2 separate regions of the Homo sapiens genome follow, and region 1 is linked to region 2. Evidence: fine-mapped expression QTL. Tissue or cell type: whole blood. Region 2 holds a variant in brackets; the other region holds the start of a gene. All regions are shown on one strand. Distances are between the middles of the regions.

Region 1 (8,108 bases), 82 kb before region 2:
TGTTCTTATTCCCATTAAACAGATGGGCAACCACGGAAAGGTTGATCAGCTCAAGGTTACACAGCTAAGAAATGACAGTATAAGGACTCAAATCCAGGCAGTCTGAGTCTAGAGCTAGTGCTCTCAACCCCAATGCTGTCATCTGGGGCTCAATTGAGCCTGGATGGTCCAAGATGCTGTCATGCATGTTTGGCAGTTAGCTGGGGCTGTTGGCTACGGCCTCCTCCTCCATTTGGTCTTTCCAGCAGGATACATCAGACTTCTTTATGCAGCAGCTGGATTCCAAAAGGTAAATGTCTTCGAGGCAATTTTTCCATGTGGAAAATTACCTTGATGCAATGGCAGCCTCCATGTATACACCTACAGGTCACGAAATAGATAGGCTTATAGGCCAAATTAAGAAGCTTAAATCACATTATCTGGTGGTTCTAAAACGTATCCTCAAAGGTTTTGGCATTACTCCTATTAAGATGTGGGGTTTATATCCCTTTCCCTTGAATAGGGGCTGGCCCTAGGGGTTGGCTTATAGCCAGTAGAATACAGTGGAAGTGATACTGTGTGACTTCCAAGGATAGGTCAGAAAACGCCACAAGCCTGCTTCTTTTTAGACATTCACTCTGGGGAAAGCCAGCTGTCTGGTGAGAAGATCACCATGCTGGAGTGGCTGTGTGAAAGTGCTCTGGTTCTCAGCCCCATTTGAGCTACCAGTCAGCCATGTCAGTGAGCCATCTTAGCTATTCAGCCCAGCTGAACTTTCAAATGACAGCAGTTGTGTTGAAATCTGATTGATACTACATAAACGACTCCAATAAAATAACTGTCCAAGTAAGTTCTTCCCCAATTTCTGAGCCTCAAAATTAAGAGCAAAATAAATTGGCTAATTAAACTACTAAGTTTTGGCATAATGTGTCTACCCAAAGAGCAGCAATAATAACCAGAAGAGTTTACCAACCAACATAAAACAGAGTGAGAAGCAAGGGGAAAGAGATAGGGTAGATTAATAAGCTTAGGATAGGCTGAAGGACCATAGCACCTAAATTCTGTTTTATGCAATGTTCTCATGTCTTATCCCTCTCCACCATCCAGTCTTCTCAGCACATAGTGTGGCTACAAGGACCAGACTGGAGAGTAAGTAAGGTGACTCAACAGACTGAAGGGGCCTGGGCTCAACATATGTCTGTTCTGTTACAGAGCTGAGGGGCAAGTGTGTCTGGTTATAATGGTAGCTGGCATTAGTTGGCTTTGTAGCTGGGGGTTTATCTGCTTTTCTTGGGAAGAGATTACATGAGGCCATAATAGCGTTACAATGGGTGTTACCAGTAGGTATGCAATTTAGGGATGACATGGCTGTAAATCTGAAGATAGTATGATCTGTACCTTATTAATACTTAAAAGTCCACTTTGTCTTTCTGCCTCTATCTAAAGCAGCATTTTCATTTGTTCCATCCTTTTTATCTATGTTCAACCCATATCCATTCATTCTATGTGTAACCTTTCTCATAAGTGACTTGCTTCTACATTTTAGTTTCTCTTGTTTTATAATAGAATTAAATATTCTATAGTAATATAGCAAAAGCATTACAGCAAACCCCAATGAGCAAACATGTATCATATCACGTTTATGATGTCCTCCTATTTATTGACCAAAACAAGTCAAATAGCCAAGCCCACAGTCAATGTAGAGGTGGACCACACAACGGAGCGGATAATAGAAGGTGTAGTTCATTGGGGATCACTACTATAACAATCTAATACTAACACATAGTTAGGAGACGGTTGATCCAGGGATCGAACTTTCCACAGTCTGTCTCTGGAGGCTACACACTAAACTACTATTCTGGAGGTGGTTGGGAATGGGTTCTTACTGAAGAACTTTTTTCAAACCTCACTTCCCAGGTCTGGGGCCTGTGATCCACCCCAGTGAATCAGAATATCTTGGGGGTAGGAAATTGTGGGGGGGATGGGGTGGTACTCCCATGAGCCTGAGACTGAAATAGCTCTGCAGAGGATTCCAGTGCACACTAGGGAATGAAGGGGGTTTCAAAGACAAGGAAGATATACTTTATGCACTCAAAAAGCTTTCATTTCCACAGAGAGCATTCTTAATTGTTGTTATTACATCACAGAGGCATCACCTTGGAATTTAAAAAAGAAGCGATTCCTTTCAATGTTTAAGAGACATCAGTGTTTCTCAAGCTTTCGTGTGTGTTATTACTGGAGGGCTTGTTAAAACCCACATGACTGGGTCCAATGTCTACGTTCTGATTCAGGAGGTGTGAAGTGGGGTCCACTATTTCTCACGTCTAAAAAGCTCTGGGACACACTTTGAGAACCAGAGTTAGAGAAGTAGGAGGCTTTAGTGGTAACAATCCTCCATTATTCAGTTTAATATTCTACTTACATGTAGCACATTTACTACCTACAAGTTTCCGGGCTGAGTGCAGCACTGTTTATGATAAGGATGGGATTTAGATCTTGATTACGCTCCAGCAGATTTATTAAGTGGATTTATTCTCTAAGGGTGCCTAAGCGTCATTAGACAGGTTCAGATAAAGCAGAGATCTCCTCCCTTAGAAGAGATTAGGGACAGCTTAATGAAGTAGGAGACCTTTCACCTGGGCCTTGAAAGATGCCTAGGACCTGGATCAGGGGAAATCGTGGACAATCAAATTATTCTTCCCGCTTTAGCACAGAGACAAAAAAATCACAAGCAACCACTAGGAAAGGTCTATGACATTCTTGCCTCTGCCTCTAGCATTAACAATTTGCATGCCAGCTGCTGGAATCTGAACGGGGAGGACTGTTCTCGTGTCAAGGGCTCAGTCTCAGACCCTCCTTGGGCAGGGGTGGAACTGGCTTCGCTTTCTCTTTGGGGCGCCCAGAGCGACTGCATTAGAGCCGGCCTGCTCGGCCGAAGCGGCGGTGGGCGCTGACTTGGCGAAGGGCGCAGCTGGGGCGCTTCGTTCCGGAGCAGAGCGCCGTGATCCCGTCGGGGCTGGGGTGGCAGCGCAGCTCTCCGCCTGTCCAGAGCGGGGCCGCACGCCGGGGCACCTTTCAGAACAAGCTCCAGATGTGGCCCCAGGTTGGGGGCCGGGTGGCAGCTGTACTACCCTGGCGGGCGAGGGGTCCAGAGCTCGTTTTCCCTATTCCGATCTGTAGGTTTAACGCCAGCACAGGGTGGCGCACCCTACCTCCTTCCACCTTCACGCACCAGCGCGGGAGGGGACGCGTGTGCACGCTCCTCCCCTAGGAGGGAGGGCGGCCCGAGAGCCTGCAGACTGCGCCTGCGCAGCCTCGCTCACACACCTCCCCGCCCCCCCGCACCTCCTTCCCCTTTCGCCCCGCCCCGTTCCCACTTCTGCTGCCGCTAGGGGTAGCGGCGGCGGCGGCGGCTGCGGCTCGGGAGCGCGGCTGCTTTGAGGGCTCGGGAACCTTACAGAGTGGGGACGTGGGGAGGCTAGAGGGTGAGAAAGCTGGCGGGAGAGTAGGGCGGCGCTGGAGGAGGGCGGTGCGTGGCTGACTCATCCTCTGGAAGATCAGACTGACAGAGACACACACTAGCCCGCCCCGCCCGCCCGCGCCGCTCCTCCTCAGCCGGGAGGCGCCCGCCCGCACCGACCGCCCGCCCTCTCCGGGCGCTGTCCGGGCCCGGCCGTCTCAGAGAAAGTTTTTCCCATCGGAGGGGCGGGAGCCGCCGCGGGCCTTTTGGAAAGGAAGTGGGGACGGAACAGGAGGCGAGAGCCGCGCGGGCCCGCGGAGTGCATGGTGCCCGGCGCCTCGGCTGCCTGGCAGGAGGACCTCGGGGCGGGGTCGAGCTGAGCCCAGCTCCTTCTCGCCTCAGCCGCGCCAGAAACCGCCTTGCCGGACGGCCGCGGGGGTCCCAGCTCCTCAGCTCGCCATGTCCCGGCTGCTGCCGCTGCTGAGGAGCCGGACCGCGCGCAGCCTGAGGCCGGGCCCGGCCGCCGCCGCCGCGCCCCGCCCGCCGTCCTGGTGCTGCTGCGGGCGGGGGCTGCTGGCGCTCGCGCCCCCCGGCGGCTTGCCGGGCGGCCCCAGGCGGCTGGGCACGCACCCCAAGAAGGAGCCCATGGAGGCGCTGAACACGGCGCAGGGCGCGCGCGACTTCATCTACAGCCTGCACTCCACGGAGAGGAGCTGCCTGCTCAAAGAGCTGCACCGCTTCGAGTCTATTGCCATTGCCCAAGGTAAGGGGGGCAGGTGGGGGGCGAGCCCGGGGGCCCCGACGCCCTCCTCTTCTCGCCAGCCCACCGGGAGCCCGCTGCGGCCCTGGATCTTGGACCCCCGCCGCCGCCCCCCTTCCGCCCCCCTCGCCTGTCTGGCCCCACGCCTGGGACGGCTGGGGGCGGGGAGACTTTCCGCCGCCCGAGTTTCCCCCAGGCAGGTAGGACGGGCGCGGGTCGTGCCAGGCAGCCGAGGCCAGCGCTAGCTACTTCCTCCCCAGCCTCCGAATCCGGAGCTTCGGCCTAAAATGCCAGTTAACGCTGTTGGGATTGAGTTTTGATTTGCCCCGTGCCTCCCCTCCCCAGCCCTCCTGTCCCTTAGCCCTTGCTGCTTTCTTGCGAGCGTGCACCCGTGCAGGTGGCATGCTGTGCCTGCTCCGAGAAAGTGCTGCAAACCCGCCTGGCAGGAAGAAACTTTTTGAACGGTTATCAAATGAAGACGTATGGGTGGGTAGCCAAAAGAAGGGGTGTAGCTTCGAAAGTCAGGGATGCTCATAGCTGCTTGTTTCCACACATGTCTGATTGCGTTAATTTCAGCAGCCAAAGGAAACATTTTCTCCAGAAATGGAAAGACAGATTCAAGTTAAACTCCAGTTTTGGTTTTTCCCAGAGGTTGAAAGAATGAAATAAATAAGGAGGTATATTTTTTGGAAATCTGTGGCTCTGTAGTAAAAGTCAGACTGATGCTCAAAAGTAATTGGGAATGATGAAAGCAAAACGATTTTTAAACTAGCATGTTAAAATAGGATATTTCTAAAAGGAGTCCAGAATGGGGTAGGGCAGAATTTGAGTCTAGGTGAAAAAGCTAAAAGTTCAGAAAATAAAAAGGATGAAAGGAGCAAACGACTAAAATGGATGTCTTAAAATATTTCTGCCACTTAAATACAGTTATGTAAACAAAACACATTGCTTCAGTTTGTATTACATTCTGATGTGTTTGAAAGTTTTAAAAAAGTTTACTCTCCTCTCTAAACTTGGTAGGTACATAAACATCTCATAGATTCCAAAGTGTAGAGCACATTGATTCGGATCATGCCATTTGATTTGCCAGACTTGAAAGTATATCTTTAGCTGATGTGCAGGAATGGAGGAAAGAATTATCTACCTCATGTAAGCAGGACGTTATCTGTACTACTTCAGAAACTTGTTTTAGTTGTGGCTTTTAATCAGATGTTTTCCCCCTCAGTTCAGGAAATTGTGGACCAATTTATAGTGGATGATTGATTCCAGACATTGTTTACCCACAGTGCTTTTACAGGAAAATGTAACGTCCGATCAATTCCGTTATTCAATGTGTAATCATGATGTTATATGCAATCATAATGAAACACTAGCACATTTGTAATCTATGTGTGCACTCAGTATGCAGTTTAAAAATAGTCAATTCTGAAAATATGCTCCTTGGAAAAATAATATAGTCAGTCATGTACTAGAACATTAACTTTTGAATCTTTCTGCACTGACAAGACTATTTGAACACACATTTTACCTTTTCCAAGTAATTTCTTGGAAATTCTGCATTGTCAACAAGTTACAAGATTGGAGGGCCCTATGAATATAGTTTTGTGGCAGTTCTTGAAAAACATGTCCTGCAAGGTGACTGAATAATTTTTTTCTCATACATTATTATTTTTTACATGCCAGCAGTATTGCAGTAGCAATGCTACATTTCCTAATAAAGATAATATTTTTAAATTTAACGTGGTTTTAAATATTCTGAAAAGGACCTAAGCACTTTAGTCAATGGAGATCATTAGCATCAATTAAACTTAGTTATGTTACTAATATGAGAGAGAAATTAGTAATTTAAATTGTCTTCTTTGCTCAGGAGAAACAGTCAAGGATATTTGAAACAATGGTTAGTCAGATGCTTATCTCTCCTCTTTATATGCTAAAGAACATCAAAGTTTAAATCAGCTATTTTTGCTGATGTCGATGACAAAATGATTGTCCTATGAATCAAATGACACAGATGCTGCTGCTTTGTTAGTGTATGTAGTCTTGGTGTTCACTTACTGTTTTCAGTATCAATACATATAGTTATGGAGATAACTAGAATCATCACTTAGGAAATTACCTTATTCATTAATCATTAAGGTAAAAGGGATTTTATTATGTTGGGAATGCGTACAGCTCATTCCATTGCTGAAATCAACAATTTTTTTCCAGCCAGATAAATGAAAAACTCCCATGTTTTCTTTTATTGTTGCTTTTTGAATAATGTTTTGAAGTACTCAACCGATGTATTGTGTGTGTGTACTAAGTGTACTTTCTAACAAAATTAATTCTATTTAAAGGGCTATTTCTTGCCATAGGCAATCTTGTGTGTCTTTGGAAAGGGTGCTTGTATAAACTAATGAAGTGTTTTGGATTTGGTATGGAAATGTTACTGAAAAAATATCATCCATGCTTTGATATGGCAGTGGAATCTGCTGTTGAAATTTGGCACATTTGCCCTTATCTTTCTTATATGTTTATCAGTAGGCATGTGATATAATCTGTGATGAGATAAAGCTTTGGAATCAGTTCGTAATAGATAAGGCAGACCTTGTGGGATATCTTATCATAGTTAAATAGAATATTGTGATTTTTAAAATTACAAACCAATTTCTTTCCCAATTTAAAAAAAAGTTGAGTTTGCGCCTTCAATTTACCTGCTCAGCCTGATCTCTCTTCTTCCAGAAACAGACCATATTCTGCTGATAGAGCATTATTCATGTTTTTACAAGTAGTACTGGCAAGCTGACATTATTACAGTGGCCTTTCAATGTTAGCCAAAATTTTTAAAACAAATTTTCTTCCCAATTTTTGTAATTAATATTTCCATTTATAATTATTTTTTAAAGCTTTTAAAATATAGCAATTTGGTATTGAAAAATAGACAGTGCTCATTGTATTAGTTATCCATTGCGGTATAACAAATTATCCTAAAACACAGTGGCTTAAAACAAGCATGTATTAACTCATAATTTCTGAGGCTCAGGAATGCTATAGCATCTTAGTTGAGTATTTCTGGCCCAGGATCTTAAGAAGTTGAAATCAAGCTCTCAGCTGGGGTGGCATCATCTGAAGTCTTAACTGGGGCTGGAGGATCCATTTCCAAGAAGTCTCACTCACATGGCTGTTGGCTGGATGTCTCAATTCCCTCCCATGTGGTCCTCCACAGGGCTGCCTGAGTATTCTCATGACATGGCAGTGGGTTTCCTCTAGAGCAAGTGATGAGAGAGCGAGAGAGCAAGAGAGAGCGAGTGTGTTTGCAAGACAGCACCTGTGGGCACCTAAGCTGGAAGCCACAGACTTTTATAACACAGTCTTAGTAGTGACAGTCCATCTCTTTTGTCCTGACACATTGTGGGAGAGTACTACAGAAGGTGTGAATACAAGGGAGTGGGAATCATCGGGGGTACATCTTTGAGGCTGGCTTCCACACTTATTTAAGGTGGTGTAATTAATGCTCATCAGAGAGTTACACAGAGAGACAAGAACTGGCTATTGGAGAGGTAAAATGAGAGATATGTTTTGAAAAAAGGAGCCTCTTAGGGAATATTTTTGTTATAATATGTATACTATAAGCCACAGACTTTTAAAACGCAGTCTTCGAAGTGACAGTCCATCTCTTTTGTCCTGACACATTGTGGGAGAGTACTACACAAGGTGTGAATACAAGGGAGTGGGAATCATCGGGGGTACATCTTTGAGGTTGGCTTCCACATTATTTAAGGTGGTGTAATTAATGCTCATCAGAGAGTTTACACAGAGAGACAAGAACTGGCTATTGGAGAGGTACAATGAGAGATATGTTTTGAAAAAGGGAGCCTCTTAGGGAATATTTTTGTTATAATATGTATACTTAAGATATTTAAAAAATGA
Region 2 (8,108 bases):
GTGGCTCATGCCTGTAATCCCAGCACTTCGGGAGGCCGAGGCAGGATCACTTGAGGTCAGGAGTTCGAGACCAGCCTGGCCAACATGGTGAAGCCCCGCCTTTACTAAAAATACAAAAAAGTAGCTGGGCATGGTGGCGGGTGCCTGAAATCCCAGTTACTTGGGAGGCTGAGGCAGGAGAATTGCTTGAACCCGGGAGGCAGAGGTTGCAGTGAGCCGAGATTGCACCACTGCACTCCAGCCTGGGCAACAGAGTGAGACTCTGTCTCCAAAGTGGGGGAAATAAAAGTCAAACACGGAAGAACTACTCAATTATTCCATTTAGGAATCTAAAATAATCAAACTCGTAGAAGCAGAAGCAGAGACTTGAATGGTGATTACCAAGGTTTGGGGGAGGGTGAATCAGAGAGATGTTGATCCAAGGGTACATAGTTTCACTTATGCAAGGTGAATAAATCCTAGAGATCTACTGTACAACATCGTGCATATAGTTAACAACACTGTATTGTGTACTTAACTGAATCTTCATGTGGCAGTCGGGTACCTAATGAATAAATGCAGAAGCCATGAGGTCTCATGGGTTGCCCGGGTCCTAGATATTGCACTGTCACTCCTGCCACCTTTGACCCTTTATCAAAACAAGTTTTAAAAAACAGCCCAAATTCAAGGGGATGGAGAAATTGATGCCACCTTTCTGATGTGAGAAATGACTATGCCATATTGTAAAGGGACATGGACACGGAGATCATTAATATAATGATTTGCCCTTCCAGGTTATGCCTTATAGGCATTTTTGGTACCTGTATCCCTTCTATTAAATCATAAGTTCCTTGAAGGCAGAAATTAGATCTTATTTACCTTTGTATTTCCCTTTGCAACGATCACAGATGTTGCACGCTATGCAATAAGTGTTGAATTTTTCCGGATGACAAGACAAGTAAAAGGTAAGGGCAAAAAAAAAAAAAAAAACAAAACAAAACAGGGTTGAAGACGAAGACGCATCGTTGTAGAGGTAGGGGAGAAAAGATATATTCCAAATAATTTAAAATCATGATCTCCAAAGCAGGCAAAAGCAAAGGGCAAATATTGATGAGCCATCAGAGTATCTTTTTTTTTTTTTTGAGATGTAGTCTCACTCTGTTGCCCAGGCTGGAGTGCAGTGGCGTGCTCTTGGCTCACTGCAACCTCCGCCTCCCGGGTTCAAGCGATTCTCCTGCCTCAGCCTCCCAGGTATCTGGGACTACAGGCACACACCACCGTGCCCAGCTAATTTTGTATTTTTAGTAGAGATGGGGTTTCAACATGTTGGCCAGGCTGGTCTCAAACTCCTGACCTCAAGTGATTTGCCCGCCTCTGCCTCCCAAAGTGCTGGGATTACAGGCGTGAGCCACTGCGCCCAGCCCAGAATATCTTAATAATAACATTTTTATAGCCAAATAGGTAAAGGCAACAGATAAGAAGAGTTGAGTAGCTGCTTAAGTAGCTAGAGCTTTATTTAAATACAGCTCTTTTGATTCCAAATTTTAGGCTTTTTTTCCCCTTCTTCAAATTTTGCAACTCTGGGGTGGTATTATGTTAGGCAATTGAAGGGAGGGGTGGATAATTTAGGGGTTTTAAATTCACAGAGTAAACATTCTGGTGGTTGGTACCATGCTTTTAGTATTTATATTTCCCAGTGTATGAAATAAAAGATTTTAGAGGGACAATGCTGAAGATGCCTAAAATAAACTTTCCTTATTTATTTCTAGGCCTTTCTAAGCAGTTAGATTCCAAGAGACAAAGTATGTTGTAGAGCTGTTCTGTTTAGTCTTTTCCTGAAATTGCAGCCAGTGTTTTGCCTATCTGCTATTAACACATTACCCTTTGCCTGCCATCTCATATTTGGCATATTTTATAAACAGGCTGAAAGCTCTAAGCTGAATCCTGGCTATATCAGGTTTTGTAATTATATCTTCCTGCAATATTCTTCCCACTCAGACAGCTAATAAATAGTTTAACTGACTGAGATTCAGCCTTTCTCTTTGTCTCTGCAAAATTTAGAAATTCAAAATGCAATTCAAAATAAGTATTTTCTTCATGTACTTTCCCCATGATGTATTTGGTGTCCAACAATGAACCAAATTATGAGGAAGGTGAGTCAACAGAATCATGAGATCCAATTCTTTCTCTTGAGACTCTTATGGTATCGGAGAGATTTGCAGTCTATTTATTTTTTATTTTATTTATTTATTTATTTTTTGGAATAAGATCTCGCTCTTGTCACCAAGGCTGGAGTGTAGTGACACGATCACTGCCACCTCCGCTTCCTGGGTTCAAGCGATTCTCCTGAATCAGCCTCCCCGGTAGCTGGGATTACAGGCGACTGCCACCACGCCTGCTAATTTTTTGTATTTTTAGTAGAAACAGGGTTTCACCATGTTGGCCAGGCTGGTTTTGAACTCCTCACCTCAAGTGGTCCGTCTGCCTCAGCCTCCCAAAGTGCTGGGATTGCAGGCATGAGCCACCGCCCGGCCAGATTTGCAGTCTTTTGGGTATTCTGCAAGCTCCAGGATTCTGGGATTCTGAGTGACCCACAAAGTTCACAGTGTTGCTGCCAAGTTCTAGTAAAGCATTATGTTATACTTTTTTGTTTTTACATAATTCAACGTATTGGGCAATAAGTCACTTTGCTAGTATTCATATTAGTTAATCTTTACTCTGCAGTAAGACTTAATGTAAATGCAACCTTTTAAAATAAAAACGTTGAATTATTCCAGTTGAGGAAAAGTGCAAGTAGCAATCTTAGAGGGCAAGACATCAGTTCGGTTTAAATTAGTGAATTAAATTCTCCATGATTTCGTGGCTCCCTGTGGATACCATGAACACTCTGTTTTACCTCAGTTGTGCCATGCCTCAACATTGAGCTCCTAGAATGCAAAGGCTATTTCTAATTCATTTGTTGTGTCTTTGGTATTTGTCATAATACAATACTATAGATTATTCCTCTTTCTATGTGGTTTTAAAAATTAGGATCATTATCAATTTTGAACTTCTGAAGTCTTGATGAGAGAGTTGTAAACTCATTAAAGATAAATGAGTAGATTTAAACTATTCACGATTCTTCAGGGTTCTTTTTGTGCCTTGAGTCTCTGAGGGGAATGGTTGCTGCTGATAAGCCTAGCCACCAGTCACGTAAGAAGATATTAATATACAGCAATTTCACAGCTGAAGGCTTTTGCTTTTCCACAGCTATGTTAATAGTATTTGTCATTTGGAATCAAACAAGTCCAGGTTATTCAATTCCCGGGGGTGGGAACTTACACAAGAGAATTAACTTCTCTGAGCTCAAGTGCCCCTGTTTATAAAATGGGGACAATAAAATTTATAAAATGGTGACCTCTGTTGTAGGGTTATAAGGATTGAAATTCTATGTGTTTAGTGCCTGGTAAAATCCTTGACATGTAGAAGGTGCTCAGTAAATTATTGTAGTAAAAATACAAGTTTTTTTTTTGGGCCAGGCACGGTGGCTCACACCTGTAATCCCAGCACTTTGGGAGTCCGAGGCAGGTGGATCACTTGAGGTCAGGAGTTCAAGACCAGCCTGGCCAACATGGTGAAACATGGTCACTACTAAAAATACAAAAATTAGCTGGGTGTGGTGGTGCGTGCCTGTAATACCAGCTACTCTGGAGGCTGAGGCAGGAGAATCACTTGAACCCAGGATGCAGAAGTTGCAGTGAGCTGAAATCACGCCACTGTAGTCTAGCTTGGGGTCACTGAGTGAGACTCCATCTCAGAAAAAAAAAAAAAAGACACCAGTTTTTAACAGTCTTTCTCCTCCCTTCAATTTGGTTGTAAAATATTCGAAAAAAAAATTGGAACCTGTACATGTTTTGACCTGAAAAATAGTGGGAAAGTGAAAACATTCCACTTTCCCTTTCGGCATTTATTGTGTCACTTAATTATTTTAAGTATTGAATTTTCAGTCTGTCAGACACATTTCTGATGAAAGTTAAGTGTGATCAGGGCTCACTGCAACCTCAAATTCCTGGGCTCAAGCTATCATCCTGCCTCAGCCTCTCCAGTAGTTGGGACTATAGGGATGTACCACTGTGCCTAGCTTTTTTTTTTTTTTTTTTTTTGTAGTGATGAAGTCTCACTATGTC[G/A]CCCAGGCTGGCCTCAAACTCTTGTCCTCAAGCAATCCTTCCACCTCAACCTCCCAAGGTGTTGGGATTACAAGTGTAAGCCACCACGCCCAGCTAAAAAACAAATTTTAAAGTTATTTGTGCCACTGCTACTCCTAAAATGAATATACTGAAATGCAATGATTTGGATCCTCCCAATATTTTCTTGTGTTATGAGAAGCTGATAAAGTCTTATGAAACTCCTGTGGGATTATTGAAATAATATTTAAATCTAAGTCTTAGGTCTTGTGAGATCCTAGGCAAGTCATTTAGCTCATATGAAAAATGAGTACTACACATTATTATGATCTCAGATTTGCTTTAAGATTGAATGAAACTTTGCATGGGAAGTGGCTTTGTCATTGGAACAGCTGTTATCTTATAATAACACTGAACAGGCCGGGCGCATGGCTCACACCTGTAATTCCAGAACTTTGAGAGGTTGAGGCAGGAGAATCACTTAAGTCCAGGAGTTCGAGACCAGCCTGGCCAACATGGCAAAAACCGGTCTCTACTGAAAATACAAAAAACTAGTCAGGCACACACGTGTGGTCCCTGCTACTTGGGAGGCTGAATCAGGAGAATCGTTTGAACCCAGGAGGTGGAGGTTGCAGTGAGCTGAGATCGCGCCACTGCACTCCAGCCCGGGTGACAGAGTGAGACTCTACCTCAAAATAAATAAATAAATACATACATATATTCATACATTACAATAACACTAAACATCCATAGGGTAAAAAATGGGGGCTTTCATTTGATGGAAAACTTCAGACACAGCTCTTTTCTCATGTGAAACAGGACTGACTAATATCCGCTGGCTTCCTCAGAATTGGTTAAGAGGAGATACTTGATATCCCGGCACCTTTTTCTGATAGGCTGTTGACTGTAGCCTTAGCCTTTCTCAGCCCCTGGCCTGACTCCTCCCCTTCCCTGGGTTGTCTATATCTACCACCTCTATATCTACCACATTTTATTTATGATGGTTGTGTTGTGGGGTGAGGTGGGAAACTTGGCACTGGCTAGGTCTCCTTTGCAATCAGCCTCCCTACAGAGAAATTGGCCATTAATAATTGTATTAGGAAACATTTTATTCTTGCAGAGGGAGACCCATGCTTTACAAAAGATTCCTGACATTTGGTAGCTTGGCCTAGTTCTGGGGTGCAAAATTAGGAAGCCCATCGTTGCGGCATACCTCAGCCATATTTCCACCCCTACCTTTATCAGCTGTAAGGCTGTTATTTTTATCTTCAACTACCTGGCTTATTTATTTTCTCAAAAAGTTCAGAACTCAAATGGGAAAAAGTAGTATTCTTTATTACCCCACTGAAAAGTAAGGGCTAATTTATCCAAGTCTGGTTCCTCACAGGCTGGCCCCTGAAACACTCCACAGAAACCAGCTACTGCTGTGAGTTTAAGACAATCAACCCAACTTATGGTAGAATTCTGAAGTGGCGGTTTGGTTGGATTGATGCTCACCCAACCTAAAATACTGAGTTAGTAGACCATAGACCTGGGCTGCATATGGAGGTTCTACGTTGTTATGCAGCTGCAGCCCCCAAAGCTTGACCCCAGCCTTTTGATTTTGCCAACTGCTAAGTGCTGAGGTGATGACCCAAAAATGGAGGCCAAGGTTCTGCCACATCATATTGCTGGGACCATGGGTTTGGACCCCAGCCCTTGATCACACCATGGGAGCAGCTTATACTCTCTCAATCATGCAAATTTTTTTTTTTAAAGCCCTACAGCCAAAAGACTGAGGTTTCTCTTCCAATGCTTGACGTTTGGCCCTGCTAGATTCTTCTGTGCTGTTTGAATGCAATGGGCAACAGGGCTCACATACCTGCGATGGGTCTTTTCTCTGAATTTCTCCCCTCCCTGTCAATGTTCCAGAAGGGCCTGCTGTGTGTGTGCCCTGCTTGACCCTTCACCTCTGGTACTGTCACCCGTAACCCTCAGCATCTGTTCAGAAACAGTGATCATAATTCATCCAGAGGTCTCTGATGATTCATCCAGAGGTTTCCTAGGCAGGGAGCTTGAATTCTGAGAACTTCAAGATCACAATGAATGACAGAGATGGTTCTTTAACACCGAGGTCTTTGGTCTCTAAATTTTATGTTATTTGCCTGGGAGTTGGTACTTCCATAAACAACTATTGGGTCACAGAGAAAGGCCTGATTCCCTTGTTGCTGTGGGAATAGTTAAATGCCTTGTCTTCCAGAAGTCTTTTTATTAACCCCAGACAGCAGTTCCAGTGATGGATTTCACTGTAAATAAGAATAGCTCATTTTTCTCTGCCCTCTAGAGTTCTTTTTTTTTAGTAGATTTTTCAAAATTTTACTGAAGCTGAAGAAAAAAAAATATATATCAAAATTGATAGCACCCAGATGCTGCAGAAGTAGTGCTGCAGGTGAAAGATACCAGGCTGAGACGAATCTGGAAAAACGGGACTCTTGTAGTCGGAGCTCCAAGGAAAGACTGGATAATAGAAAAGGAAAGATGGAAAAGCCAGAAAGAAGGAGATGTTATAAGAAAGAAAAGTATACACCACACACATATGCGCGTGCACACACACACACACACACAGAGAGAGAGAGAGAGAGAGAGAGAGAAAACTTATAAAATTTTGAGTCTGTCCATTGGTAAATTACTCTGTTACAAGCCGGCAATGAAATTTGAATGGTAGTTTCCATTGCTCAATCCCATGGGAAGTTCTGAGTGTGTAGAGCAGTCAGGCCACTTTCAGTACTCTTGGGACCTCCGCAGACCAGGAGGGACTGTGATCTTGAGATCTTGATGATGCTCAACATGTATCTTGGTTCGCAAAGCATCTTCATGCAAAGGATCTCGTTTTAGTTTCACAACCCACCCGCTGAAGTAGCTGAGTGGAAACTCTCCCCTTCTACAGATAAGGGTAGAAAACAGTGACACCTAGGTCCAGGAGTAAAGATATTCACCCCTTCCGAAAATAATTTATGAATGATTTAAAATAGTTTTGTTGGGACGCAGACACAGGTACGGGATACAAAATGTAAATGTGGAGCCTTAAACATTATAGTATTTTATTTGATTTTGTGTTTTTTTATTATTATTATTATTATTATTATTATTATTATTATTATTATTTTGAGATGGAGTCTTGCTTGGTCACCCAGGCTGGAGTGCAGTGGCATGATCTCTGCTCACTGCAGCCTCTGCCTCCCAGGTTCAGGCAATTCTCCTGCCTCAGCCTCCAGAGTAGCTGGGATTTCAGGCACCCACCACCATGCCAGGCTAATTTTTGTATTTTTAGTAGAGACTGGGTTTCATCATGTTGCCCAGGTTGGTCTCGAACTCCTGACCTCAGGTGATCCGCCCGACTCGGCCTCACAAAGTGCTGGGATTACAGGCGTGAGCCACCGCACCTGGCCCATTTTGGTAGTTTAATAACCACACACGCAGGACCATCTAGGGCAAGTTCTGAGTTTGGGGGCTCCCTTGTGTAGTTCCTTCTTTTTGAATCTGTGCTGAGGATGATTTTCTTTAGATCGTGGCAGAAGTGGTACTATGCTCATTGCAGGCCTCAGTCTTAAGAAGTCCTAATGACCTCTTCTTTTGTACTCTTGGGAATCTTAAGCTGCCATGTAAGAAGTTTGGTTGCCACTGAAGAGATCACATGGCAAATCCACATGAGGAGAAGCCCTGAGATTACATGGAATGAGAGAGAGAGAGAGATAGAGGAGAGGAGAGAGGAGAGAGAGGAGGGTAGGGGAGGAGGGAGAGATCAAATTGGCTGAAAACAATAGCTGACCCCAGGCCCAGCTTTCCTGTAGCTAAATGCAGCCACAAAAGTGACCACTGTAAAGACCAGCAGAAGAACTGCTCAGTTGAGCCCCAAACCAGATTCCAGAACTGTGAGAAAATGGAATGATTGTCATTTTAAGCCACTAAATTTGGGGGCGGTTTGTT

What was found. PIP is the estimated chance that this variant, and not a neighbour inherited with it, causes the effect.
Region 1: it holds the start of TMEM65, and the variant in region 2 is fine-mapped to the expression of TMEM65 in whole blood (TOPMed, PIP above 0.99).

What each region holds. Positions count from the first base shown.
Region 1 is chr8:124,367,948-124,376,055 of GRCh38, reverse strand. TMEM65 (transmembrane protein 65) reads left to right here and starts at 3,355. Exons shown (of 7, transcript NM_194291.3): 1 at 3,355-4,202. The coding sequence starts at 3,899. RefSeq lists enhancers at 2,793-2,982, 3,194-3,488 and silencers at 3,213-3,442, 3,563-3,832, 3,963-4,092, 4,143-4,272, 4,283-4,332.
Region 2 is chr8:124,286,237-124,294,344 of GRCh38, reverse strand. It overlaps the pseudogene LOC112268031. Among named protein-coding and RNA genes, the nearest start is that of TMEM65, 82 kb to the left of the region's middle. The variant G/A (reference allele first, on the strand shown) is at 4,146.